2 separate regions of the Homo sapiens genome follow, and region 2 is linked to region 1. The links come from fine-mapping of genetic effects on gene expression. Tissue or cell type: whole blood. Region 1 holds a variant in brackets; the other region holds the start of a gene. All regions are shown on one strand. Distances are from middle to middle.

What was found. PIP is the estimated chance that this variant, and not a neighbour inherited with it, causes the effect.
Region 2: it holds the start of ZFP69, and the variant in region 1 is fine-mapped to the expression of ZFP69 in whole blood (INTERVAL, PIP 0.97).

The regions. Positions count from the first base shown.
Region 1 is chr1:40,506,702-40,513,040 of GRCh38, forward strand. It overlaps EXO5 (exonuclease 5), which reads left to right and starts at 2,066. Exons shown (of 4, transcript NM_001346953.2): 1 at 2,066-2,207; 2 at 2,750-2,924; 3 at 3,032-3,089. It overlaps EXO5-DT (EXO5 divergent transcript), which reads right to left and starts at 1,994. Exons shown (of 2, transcript NR_187365.1): 1 at 1,888-1,994. RefSeq lists enhancers at 2,103-2,352, 2,383-2,472. The variant CT/C (reference allele first, on the strand shown) is at 3,493.
Region 2 is chr1:40,474,022-40,480,360 of GRCh38, forward strand. ZFP69 (ZFP69 zinc finger protein) reads left to right here and starts at 3,269. Exons shown (of 6, transcript NM_001320179.2): 1 at 3,269-3,873; 2 at 5,015-5,467. The coding sequence starts at 5,341. RefSeq lists a silencer at 3,008-3,477.

The DNA.
Region 1 (6,339 bases):
CCTGACTTCAGGTGATCCGCCCGCCTCGGCCTCCCAAAGTGCTAGGATTACAGGCGAGAGCCACCGTACCTGGCCTCAACTTACATATTTCTAAGAAAAAGAACATTTTCCTACATAACCACAAAATCATTATGACACTCAGGAGACCTATAATTGATTGATAATATTATCTAAAACACAAGTCACTTCAAAATTTTCCCAACTGACGCACCAGAGTAGCTGGGACTACAGGCACGTATCACCACCCCCAGCTAATTTTTGTATTTTTTGTAGAGACGTGTTTTCACCATGTTACCCCAGCTGGTTTCTGAACTGAGCTCAAGGGATCCACCCACTTCGGCCTCCCAGAGTTCTAGGATTACAGGTGTGTGAGCCACTGCACTCAGCCTGTAGTTGTCTTAATTTAATGTTTCTCTTTCTTTCTTTTCTTTTCTTTCTTTCTCTTTCTTTCTTTTTCTTTCCTTTTTTCTCTTTCTTTTTTTCCTTTTTTTTTTTGAGACAGAGTCTCACTTTATCACCCAGGCTGGAGTGCAGTGGCCTGTTGTCGGCTCACTGCAAACTCCGCCTCCCAGGTTCAAGTGATTCTCCTGCCTCAGCCTCCCAAGTAGCTGAGATTACAGGCACCTGCCACCACACTTGGCTAATTTTTTGTATTTTTACTAGAAACGGGGTTTCACTATGTTGGCCAGGCTGGTCTCAACTCCTGACCTCAAGTGATCCGCCTACCTGGGCCTCCCAAAGTGTTGGTATTACAGGCATGAGCCACCATGCCTGGCCAATTTAATGTTTTTCTATTTTTGTTTTAAAATATTTACCTATTCTGAAGTCCAAAGATATTTTCCTATATTATATTCTGAAGACTTTATAGTTTAGGATTTCACATTTAGGTCTTAATCCAGCTACAATTGATTTTTGTGATGAAATGAGAGATAGAGGTCCTGTTTTCTGTTTTGTTTTTTTTTTTGAGACGGAGTCTCCCTCTGTTGCCCAGGCTGAAGTGCAGTGGTGTGATCTCCGCTCACTGCAACCTCCGCCTCCCGGTTCAAGCGATTCTCCTGCTTCAGCCTCCTGAATAGCTGGGACTACAGGTGTGTGCCACCACACCCAGCTAATTTTTGTACTTTTTAGTAGAGACAGGGTTTCACCATGTTGGCCAGGATGGTCTCGATCTCTTAACCTCGTGATCCGCCCACCTCAGCCTCCCAAAGTGCTGGGATTACAGGCGTGAGCCACCGTGCCCGGCCTTCATATTGTCATAGAACCTTCACTGAATAGACCATCTTTTCTCCATGGCTGTATGATGCCACCTTTGTCATAAATCCAGTTTTCAAGTATGCGTGATAAACCGTAAAGAAAAGCAAAGAGTCAAGTATCTGCTTTTGGTAAAATAAATAAATAAATAAATATAAATAAGAAAAGCAAAGTGTTATAAAAGTCGGGCTAGTGGTTTTCTCAGGAAGTGTATCTGTGAAGAACCTGACACTATTCTTTTTTCGCTCTAATGACTTGGCTGTTCATAATTATACTTATCTTTGGTTTATATTTCAGAATAAAATTGTGTTATATTTATCAATAAAAGGTTAGTTAAAAGTAAGCAAACAGAAAAAAAAAAAGAAATATTGATGAGGGGAGCGCCAGCATCTCTCAAAAGTGAGTTCGTGGTTTTGCTCTCAATGGAAAAGCCGGCGGGAGGTGCTAAGGTGGGGATGCTGAATCCACGGATGGCCAAGCGGAGACGCGGCACTTCACCGGGGGCAGCGAGGGGCCCAGACCTTGCTCGGATTGTCCCGGTGGTAACTGGGAGACCTCGCCAGTGAGGGAAGTTACAGATCAGCTGCGCCCGGAATTAAACGACCCACAGACAACGGCGCAAACAGAGGGACTGACCTGCTTTAGTGAGCTCCCAAAACCTGCTCTCGCATAAGCACACCCTCCTCCGCTCACAGAGACGGATTTCTGCCCCAGCCGCAGCCTCGCGAGGTAGGCGGCGCCGCGAGGGCCTCTGGGAAGGCGGTCCGTGGGCAGCCGCGGGGCACTCTGGGACTGGGCTCTGGGCGGCTTTTTTGCGAGTGGCGGGCCGACTGTGTAGTCCGCTCCGGCAGCGCGCTCTGCCCGGCTTCCTCAGTCTCCTCGCCGGGAGCGTCCGGGAGCAGCTCCGAGGCCGCGGCGAAACCAGGTGGAGTCCGAGGTTCGGAGGAGTATCAGAGGTTAGGGGAAGGCCGGAGAATGGGCTGGGAGGCTGCGTTTCGGAGCTTAGGGTTCTGTCCCTGCGATCGCCGCGTCTCCCTCCCTTGGTGGGCGCGGCTCCCGGGAAGCGGCTCGTCTCGTCTCCCCTCACAGGCCGGGTTCCCGTTCTGGACCTTCGCCCTCGGAACACAGTGCTGTTGGCCGGGACTCCTTCCCGAGGTGGACGGCTCCCTGTTCTTATTCCTGGCTCTGCCAGAACTGTAGGAAGTGCTCAGTACACTTTAGGGCATGCATGGCACTCCCTGGGAGACAGTGCTTTAGGGCCAGAGGAAAGATCTTCCCTGAAGGCAAACGCCCGCGGAGCCCACAAGTCCGGGCCGCACTGAACAAGTCAGGATGTTGCCATCGGCAATTCTGCAGAAGGCAGTAACCCATCTGAGAGAAAGAGCCGCTGTCATAAGGTCTCTTGCTTGAGCTGCTGGGTTGAGAATGGAGCTGGAAGAGGGAACTGATCTCGGAGCTCCTTGGGGATCTTGGTTATGTCTGACCCTTTTACTTTCAGGGAGCAGGGATTGGATCAAGTCATTGCATCTAGAGTACGGGGGAACGAAGAAATCATGGAGAGAGTTTGCCCCAGGAGAGAGGCGAGCGTTATGTAACCTAGGATCTGGGGTGGGTAACAGTCTGTGCAGTGTCAATGTGAGAGGAGAAAACACCCAACGTGAGGGAATGGTCAGGTAAGAAAGGACCAGAAGTTCCGGTTCTACCATAGCAAGGACCTAAGTTGCTAATTTAGGTTCTTTAATGCAGACCTGGTCTTTCAGAACTTCTTTCTCTTCCCTAGCCTTGTCATTTCAGCATTCTGGCCTTCCCTATGAGGAGGAAGATCAACGAAGTCACAGGTGAATAGGAGTTTCTCTTCTAAAGTTTCATCTCCTTTGTCAGGGGGAATCGATACACTCTCTCATCTCTTCCTTGGGGAAAAAGAAGGAGATCTATCTTCATCGAGTGCTAATATGCGTACTATATGTTATCACTCAATGGTCGGATATCTCAGTAGGGTTAGTAGGTATTTTAAAAATGTGTCAGTAACTTCAGGAAAACTAGAACCTTGTCCAAGCTTACTCAAAAGGCAAGTAGCATACTACTAAATGCTACCGAACTACTCAGGATTAGGTTTAGAATCCATATCTGTAGGACTCCCAGACTCTTGGCATTATGCTGTTTCCCAGCATCCCATTCACTTACTACCTAACAATTTTGCCATACCTGTGTACTACCTGTATTATTCTATGTTTTTACTTA[CT/C]TTTTTTTTTTATAAAAATCAAACTTGTCCTAAGAAACAATATCTGTGAAATTAGCCATTTGATGGCTGCTCCAATAACAGTATAGTTATTCTAAGGTGTATCTAAAAATGTTGGTCCATGTGCTATGTAAAATCGTCTCGTGTCAGACATACAAACTACAATTTGGGACACAATGCACTGCATTATGCTCTCTTCTGGATTCTTTTCTGCGTAGGAAAGTCCCAGACACATCTGAGCATCAGTCATCCATCCCTAGTGTACTGTTTTATTCTTATAGATGAATACTTTCACAGAGAATGCCCTGCTTTGTATCTTCTCCAAAAGACATTTCACTTCCCTGTTTAGAACTACCTGTTCTCAATGTTGTATGTAAAACAAGTAGGAACTCCATACATTTCAGGAGCTTCCTCTCTCTTTGGGGAGTTAATGTGTACACAGGAAATAGTCTAACTCTATGCTGTTCAGTAGAGCTTTCTGTGATCAGGGAATGTTCTGTATCTGTGCCTTATCTGTATCCACCAGCCAGATGTAGCTACTGAGCACTTAATATATGGCTAGTGCAACTGAGATGTGAATTTTATTTTATTTTAATTAAATTTAAGTAGCCACATATGGCTAGTGGCTACTAATGGCTACCATATTGGACAGCCAGGTCTAGATATTTGAAATAAAATATTTTAAGGTTATTGATTTGGACTTGGAGTTCCCCCTCACCCTCACAAATACCTCATAGCATATGTGTTATAAATGCCCTTTAGGGCTGGGTGCGGTGGCTCACGCCTGTAATCACAGCACTTTGGGAGGCCGAGGCGGGTGCATCACGAGGTCAGGAGATCGAGACCATCCTGGCTAACACGATGAAACCCCGTCTCTACTAAAAAATACAAAAATTAGCTGGGCGCGGTGGCGGGTGCCTGTAGTCCCAGCTACTCGGGAGGCTGAGGCAGGAGAATGGCGTGAACCCGGGAGGCAGAGCTTGCAGTGAGCTGAGATCCCGCCACTGCACTCCAGCCTGGGTGAAAGAGTGAGACTCTGTCTCAAAAAATAAAATAAAAGAAAAGAAAAAATAAATGCCCTTTAACTTTAGTTTCTTGGTGAAGGGTAAATATTCTTTCCAATTTTCAGAGACTTCATAGTTGAAATAAAGTTTCTTGAAATTATTTAAAGCACATTGACAGTTTATAACACTTGTGTAAATGCACAGCTTCTGTATTTTGTTACTATTGAAATATCCTGTAAAGCAATAATGTTGTAGGATACTCTATAAGCAAAAGTCTTACTATTGTATTATTTTTATTCATTGCAGATAACTTTTCTTCTAGCTATCTATGTTTTCTTTCATTAGTGACATTTAGACTATTTAAAAATCAGTTAAACACAACCACAACTGATATTAATGACGTTTTCAGGGCATCACTTCTTACGCTTTGACATAGGAGTTGGTGCATTCACCTTATTTCACTGCTTATTAGAATAGCAAGAAGGGGACATTTGGTTCATAGCTATCTCTATCAGCTAAAATTCTATGTCAAATTATTTATTTTCCTGGCACTCAAAGTCAAACACTAATGGACTGGTTGTATCTTGTTTTGCTTACTCTCTATGCAGGTTAGATATGTGGGGTTAGAAGGAAGGCTTAAAAAGAGTATCTTCATAAGATAATTTGCCTAGTTTCTTTTTTCTTTTTTCTTTTTTTTTTTTGAGACGGAGTCTCGCTCTGTTGCCCAGGCTGGAGCACAGTGGTGGGATCTCAGCTCACTGCACGCTCCGCCTCCTGGGTTCACGCCATTCTCCTGCCTCAGCCTCCCAAGTAGCTCGGACTACAGGCACCCACCACCAAGCCCGGCTAATTTTTTGTACTTTTAGTAGAGACAGGTTTCACCGTGTTAGTCAGGATGGTCTCGATCTCCTGACCTCATGATCCGCCCGCCTTGGCCTCCCAAAGTGCTGGGATTACAGGCGTGAACCACTGCGCTTGGCCGCCCAGTTTCTTAAGATTAAAAAATACTTGAAAGACAAAACAATCAAACATAATGTGTGGTCTTTGTTTCCTGGATTAAAGAAAAGCTATCTAGGACATTTTGAGGACAGTTGGGGAAATTTATATATGAACTGGAATGTTAAGGAATTACTAATTTTGTCAGATGTGATAATGTAGTTATGAGGAGAATGTCATTTGGAAGACAGTATTGTGGTTATGAAGAAGAATGCCATTTGGAAATTATGCTGAAACATTTAGATTTTAAAGTTTTATGCTATCTGTAATTTACTTTAAAATAGTTCAGCCAAAACAAAAAAGTACACACACAAGAAGTAAATACAGCAAAATGTCAACAGTTGTTCATCTACATGGTGTGGACATGGGTGTTTGTTGTTTTATTCTTTCTACTTCTCTGTATGTTTGAAAATTTTCTTTTTCTTTTGAGATGGAGTCTTCACTCTGTCACCCAGGCTGGAGTGCAGTGGTGTTATCTCAGCTCACTGCAACCTCCACTTCCTAGGTTCAAGCGATTTTCCTGCCTCAGCCTCCCGAGTAGCTAGGATTACAGGTGCCCGCCACCACACCCGGCTAATTTTTTGTATTTTTAGTTTCACCATGAGGTGTATTTTTAGTTTCACCATGCTGGCCAGGCTGGTCTCAAACTCCCGACCCCAGGTGATCCACCTGCCTCGGCCTCCCAAAGTGCCGAGATTACAGGCTTTAGCCACTGTACCCGGCCTTGAAAATCTTTATAGTAAAAAGTTGAAAGAAAAAAGGAGTACAGTACCCATCCCCATCCCACAGTAGGGTAGTGAGATATTGGATGTAAAACACGTGGCTCAGTGTCTGGCACACAAAAAATAA
Region 2 (6,339 bases), 33 kb before region 1:
TATGTGAATATACCGATATTTATTTACCCATTCTACTGCTGACAGGCTGCTATGAACATTCTAGTATATGTCTTTTAGGGAACATATTTATGCATTTCTGTTGAGTATATACCCAGGGGCAGGATTGCTGGGTCATATTATTCAGCTTCAGTAGATACTGCCAAATACTTTTCCAAAACAGTTGTATGTACCAATGTATAGTCTCACTAGCAGTATCTGAAAAATCTAGTTCTTAATTTTAATCTATGTTAATGTATCATTTTTTCTTTATGTTTAGTACTTTCTATAGCATGTAATAAATCTGTGCCTATATTAAGGTTGTAAAAACATTCTCTGATTTTCTTCTAAAAAGTTTTATTATTTTATATTTAGATCTGCAATCCATTTGGAATATTTTTGTATATGTTGTAAACCAGGAGTTAATATGAATATCCAATTGATCCAGCACCAATGTATTAAAAACACCTTCCTTTCCCCACCCCTGTCATATGCAAGGTGGTGGTCTATGTGTATGTCTGCATCTGGACTCTATTCCCTTCATTGCTCAGTTGATCTATTCTTACACCAATAGCTACCTCATTGTCTTAGTTACTATAATTTTATATTTGGTCTTCATATTCAGTAATATGCCCTTCCAGCTAAAAATACGTATAAAAATTCCAGCCAAAAAATGGCTGGGCCTAGTGGCTCACACCTGTAATCCCAGCACTTTGGGAGCCCAAGGCAGGCAGATCACTTGAGACCAGGAGTCTGAGACCAGCCTGGCCAACATGACAAAACCCTTCTCTACTAAAAACACAAAAATTAGCTGGGCATGGTGTCACTCACCTGTAATTTCAGCTACTCAGGAGGCTGAGGCATGAGAATCGCTTGAACACAGGAGGCGGAGGTTGCAGTGAGCTGAGATGGCACCACTGCACTCCATCCTGGGCAACAGAGAGAGAATCTGTCTCAAAAAAAAAAAAAAATACACACACACACACACACACACACACACACACACATACATATACTCAATATGCTATATCTATTTTTTAAACCTCATGGATTATTGTGGATTATTGAGATTTTTAGTCTATTATTTATGTTCATTTAGATTTAGTCATGTTTTTTACTTTGTTCTGTTTTTACTGCACCAGGCAAGTGGACCCCAGTTTGGTTCTATAACAATTTGTAGTTTTACTATAATGCGTGGATTTCTTCTACTAGGTGTAGATTTCTTTGACTAGATAAATAAAAGGGTTTCTTTTATTTATCCCACTAGAGAGTTATATGGCATCTTATATCTGTGACCTGGTTCCTTTCATAGGTACTAAAAATATTCAGCCCTTATTTCTTCAAATACTGTCTCTGCCCTAGCTTTATCTCTCGTTAAACTTAGTTCGATCCTCTTACTGTATTCTCTATCTCTCTTACTCTGTCTTCTGTAGGGTACATTTTTTGTTTCTCAATGCTTTATTCTAGATAATTTCTTGTGACCTACCTTCCTTTCAATTTATTCTACATTCAGCAGTGTCTAATCTGCCATTAACTGAGTTCTTAATTTAGTTACTGTATTTCTCAATCATAGAAGAGAAGTCTATTTACTTCTTTTTTTAAATCTGCTCTATCACTTTGTATAGTTTTTAGGTACCTGCCAAAATTGTCCAAGTTATCTTTTTTATTTCTTCAGGCAAAGAAAATATGATTTTATTTTACTTTTTTTCCTAAAAACTCTAATAGGTAAGCAAGAAAATATACATATGTTTTAAGCCAGGGTCTTGCTCTGTCACCCAGGCTGAAGGGCAGTGGTATGATCGTGACTTACTGCAGCATCAACCTGCTGGGCTCAAGCGATCCTCCCATCTCAGCCTCTTGAAGAGCTGGGACTTCAGGGCTGTGCCACCATACCTGGCTAATTTTTGATATTTTGTAGAGACAGGGTTTTGCCATGTTGCCCAGGCTGGTCTTGAACTCCCGAGCTCAAGCAATCCACCTGCCTTGGCCTCCCAAAGTGCTGGGATTATAGACATAAACCACTGTGTCCAGCCCAAGAAAATATTATTTTGCGGTTTGCATCAAATAATTCTAAAAGCAGTTGTTTCTGCAGGTCTATTTCCAATGTTTGTGTTTCTGCTGGTTCTCACTAAGAATCTAGTTTCTTTGTGTACCTGGTTATCTTTAATTCTGTATTTGACATTGTCTATGAAAACTTATGTGTAGGAAAAATGTCGGCCCTACAATTATAAGGCTTTCCTCCACCTATTTGCTTTTGCCAAGCATCTGGTGACACCATAGTCAGAGACAGTCTTAAACCAAGATAATGTCTGAGACAGGCAATTTGATGCAGTCTGTAAATTCCTTTTAAGCTGTTCCATTTTCAATTCATCCTCACCCTGAGGCTGTTGCCCTTTGGGGTCCCAGTTATTGTAAGGAGGGTCTTCTTCTTCTTCTTCTTTTTTTTTTTTTTTTGAGATGGAGTTTTGCTCTTGTCGCTCAGGCATGGAGAAACCCCATCTCTACTAAAAATACAAAATTACAGGCATGGTGATGCGTGCCTGTAATCCCAGCTACTCTGGAGGCTGAGGCAGGAGAATCACTTGAACCCGGGAGGCAGAGGTTGCGGTGAGCCAACATCGCGCCACTGCACTCCAGCTTGGGCAACAAGAGCGAAACTCCGTCTCAAAAACAAATTTATATATTATATATATATGTATATATATATACACATACACACACACACACACACACACGTATTCCAGAATTTTATTTTTAAATTTTATTGTTGTTTTCTACAGTGGGTTGATACAAATATCCTAGCCCATCATCTCCCCACCCTGCTTTCCTTTTCTTCATGGTCCTCACAATCGCCTGGGGTATTATCTATTTATTTTTCTATTTGTTATTGTCAATTAATTTCAATGTAATTAAGTTCCAAGAAAGCAGGAACTGCGTTTTGTTAACTGCTGTATACGCAGGGCCAATAAGAATGTGGGGGTAGATCTTACACACTCAGAATAGATAACTGAATGAATGAATGAATGAATGAGTGAATGAATGAATGACAGGGAAGGCGCTTCACCGGAAAGGCTGAAGGAGGTCTCCCAAGGACCGCTGTGAGGAAACGGGGGGCGGCGTGGGTGGGTGGCCGCTACCCACGGTTCCGGACGGCCCTCGGGGGCGCGCTCGGGCGGCTTCCAGCTTCCGGGTTCGAGGGCGCGCGCTGCTTCCCGGGAGAGGGCGGGCTCCGTGGCAGCCCCCTGTGGGCGGAGCCGGCGGCCGGGGCTCACAACCCGCCGGAAGACGCGCGGGTTGTGGCAGCTGCAGCGGGACCGCGTGGGGTGGGCCCCGGGACCGCCAGGGCTGCAGCGAGAGCGGCCGGCGGTGCAAGCGGCCGGGAGGGCGCGGCCGGAGGCAGAGGCCAGGCGAGACACCCGGCTGCGGCCTAAGAGGCCAGGCTGGGTGGGCTTGGCTGCAGCCGCCAGCCCCGTGTTAAAGCGGCAGCCAGGGAGGTGTATCCTCCCCGGGGTCTGCAAGACGCCGGCTCAGGGCATCCCTCCCATTCCGGCCCTCAAAGCCTCGCTCCTGGGGGCGCTGCTGGGAAAGCCCACCCGCCTGGGCGGGCCCTTGATGGGAATGTGGAGCAGACCCTCGTCCACTCCGGAGGCCGAGGGTCCTCCGGGCTTCCGAAGGAAGCCGACCTCAACGCTGGACGCTTCTTGGAGAATGATTGCGTTGAGTGGAGATGTGGTCTGTCTATAAAAGGCCGGGAGGGAACAATATCTGTTACCACTCAGTCCGTCTCTAAAGAGACACTCTTTACCGCTGAAAACCTCAAGAGTGAGCACTCCCACGCCCCCGTCTCTGGTCCTACCTGGGTCCAAGGCCGATGTGGTGAGTAGGAGTCTGTGTGCAGTCTTTGAGTCCGAGGGTGGCATGTCTGGGAGCACTGTGAGGGTGGGGCATCTTCGATATGAAGCTTCTCAGCCATTAACTGTTTCCCGAGTAAGATTCGAAAATTCGTGCACTTTGGTAACAAGACTTTTTATGTATTCAGGGGTGGGATATTTCTCACAAGCTCCAATTCCTAGAACACACGCAGCTCCTGTCTCTGCATATAGTCACACACACACACACACACACACACACGCCTATAAGTCACATACCCATCCTTCTCCAACAAACTTCAAAAAGTTGGGCCAGCTCCCTTCCCACGTAGCTCCGACTGTTCTTGGAGTGCCGTATACTTTGGACCTGGTCACGGTCAAAGCACCTGCTCAGATTCTAGGGTTTGGTTGAGATGATGGATTTGAGTTGTTTCCAAATTTGCCTATTACTATTCTGCAGTAGTCCTCATTATACTAAATTTACACCATTTGAAGACATACCCTCTTCCCCAATTTTAACATTTCTGAAACCAAGATGCATCTTCCCAGTGTGGTTCCAAGGAACTTGCCAGCTGCTGGGCATCTGCGTGGGTGGTGACGTGGCTGTCACTGCTTGTTCATGCCAAAATGCAGCTATGTCATTATTCTGTCAGTTGAGATATTTTGAACTTTAAATTCAGATTTAATGGTTTCTAAAAATAACTTTAAAAATTAATACTATGATTCAGCAATATGATAACAGGTTTATAACAATGTTCATTAAGGGTTTACTGTATGCCTAGCATTGTCTCAACCAACATTACAACTCTATAGAATACAATTATTATCTCCATTTTATAGATTAAGAAACTGAAGCTGAGAGTTGAAGTGTCATAGAGCTTTTAAGTGCAAGTGTCAGGTTTCTAAGCCAGGCTGTCTGATTTCAAAGCCTGCCCTCTTAAACCCCGTCTGTGTCCAGGCAGAAGATGCATGCAGCTTACAAGGAGGGAAGATGAGGCATGGTCTGTGCATGTTTGTACATCTTTGCATGTTTGTGTATGTATGTATAGAACTGGAGATAGAGCCACGTCCAGGAACATGTATTATATTTATTCCTGCATGGATATTTTTCTTTTGGGTATTTTGCAGTTTTAAATATATTTCTGCAGATTCTGGAGTTCTGGAGACAAGTGCTTCTGGATCCCTCTTCCCTTCCCTTTTGCTCCTCTAAAGAGTATGGAGACATGAACTCAAACCTAACTAACTGGCTGCCTCCCAAAGAAAGTGCTTGATTTAAAGGGGAGTTTGTTTTCCAGAATTGTTAAAGTCACATCAGTCTCTAGGAACCCCCAGGTCCTGGTGCTGCAGGGACACACCAGAGTCCTGAGGGCAGGTGATTGGAATCTGAGCAACACCCCACAACTGTGAAGCGTCTCATCAAGAGCTTCTGGCAATTTCCTCACCAGAAGTGGACAAGTCCAGTAAGGCAGGCATCATGCCACAGCAGCTCCTGATCACCCTGCCTACCGAGGCCAGCACCTGGGTGAAGCTGCAACATCCAAAGAAGGCCGTGGAGGGGGCGCCCCTGTGGGAGGATGTGACTAAAATGTTTGAAGGAGAAGGTGAGAATGGACTGATGGAGGGGGAAGAAGGGGATCTCATTTGTGTGTGAAAAGATAGGTACACACTTCATTGAAGTGGAGAGAAGGAGGGAGAGAAGGTCTCTGGGGGTTCATTCTTGTGGTTTTTGGGAAGGGGACAGCTGTGAGGGAAAATCTTGGGGTCCAGCATGGACTCCTTGTGACACGTGCTTGCAGCTGCTCTCATCTCCCATCTTCAAATACTACATGTAGCAGGAAGACAGAATACAAGGTGTTCCCCACCAGTGGTGCCTGAGTGTGGGAATGTGATTCACAGACAGGTCTAAGATTTCTGCCCTCCTTAAGTCCTCTAAGGGTTTTCCTGCACAGGTTCCAGTCATTTTAGCCCCAACCCAATATTTATCACAAGTATCAGTTTTTTCTTTTCATCTGCTGAGAGGCAGGAATGACATGCCAGATTACTCTCATGTTACCTTGAACTGTGGGAGAGATGCCCAACAATCACACCTTATTTAGTGGTCTGGTTAGGAGTAAATAGAAGGATGGAGGAAGTCATGTGTCTCATGTGGTGTTTTAATTCATACCTTTAATGCTTTACACTCAGCCAGTATTTATTGTTCTAGCTGTGTCAGGCAGGGACTTTGGCTAAACATCTTAAAAGATGGAAAAATGAATAATTATCTCTAATTCTGATTACCAATGGATTGAGATAGGCATACACCTCAATCAAAATAATAGAAAGCAGCCTAAGAAAAGTTATTTTGGAACACAAGCGACGGAAAACTTTGTTCTGGTTGTGATTTTTTTTTTTTTTTGGTGATGGAGTCTCGCTGTGTCGCCCAGGCTGGAGTGCAGTGGTGCAATCTCAGCTCACTGCAACTCCTGCCTCCCAG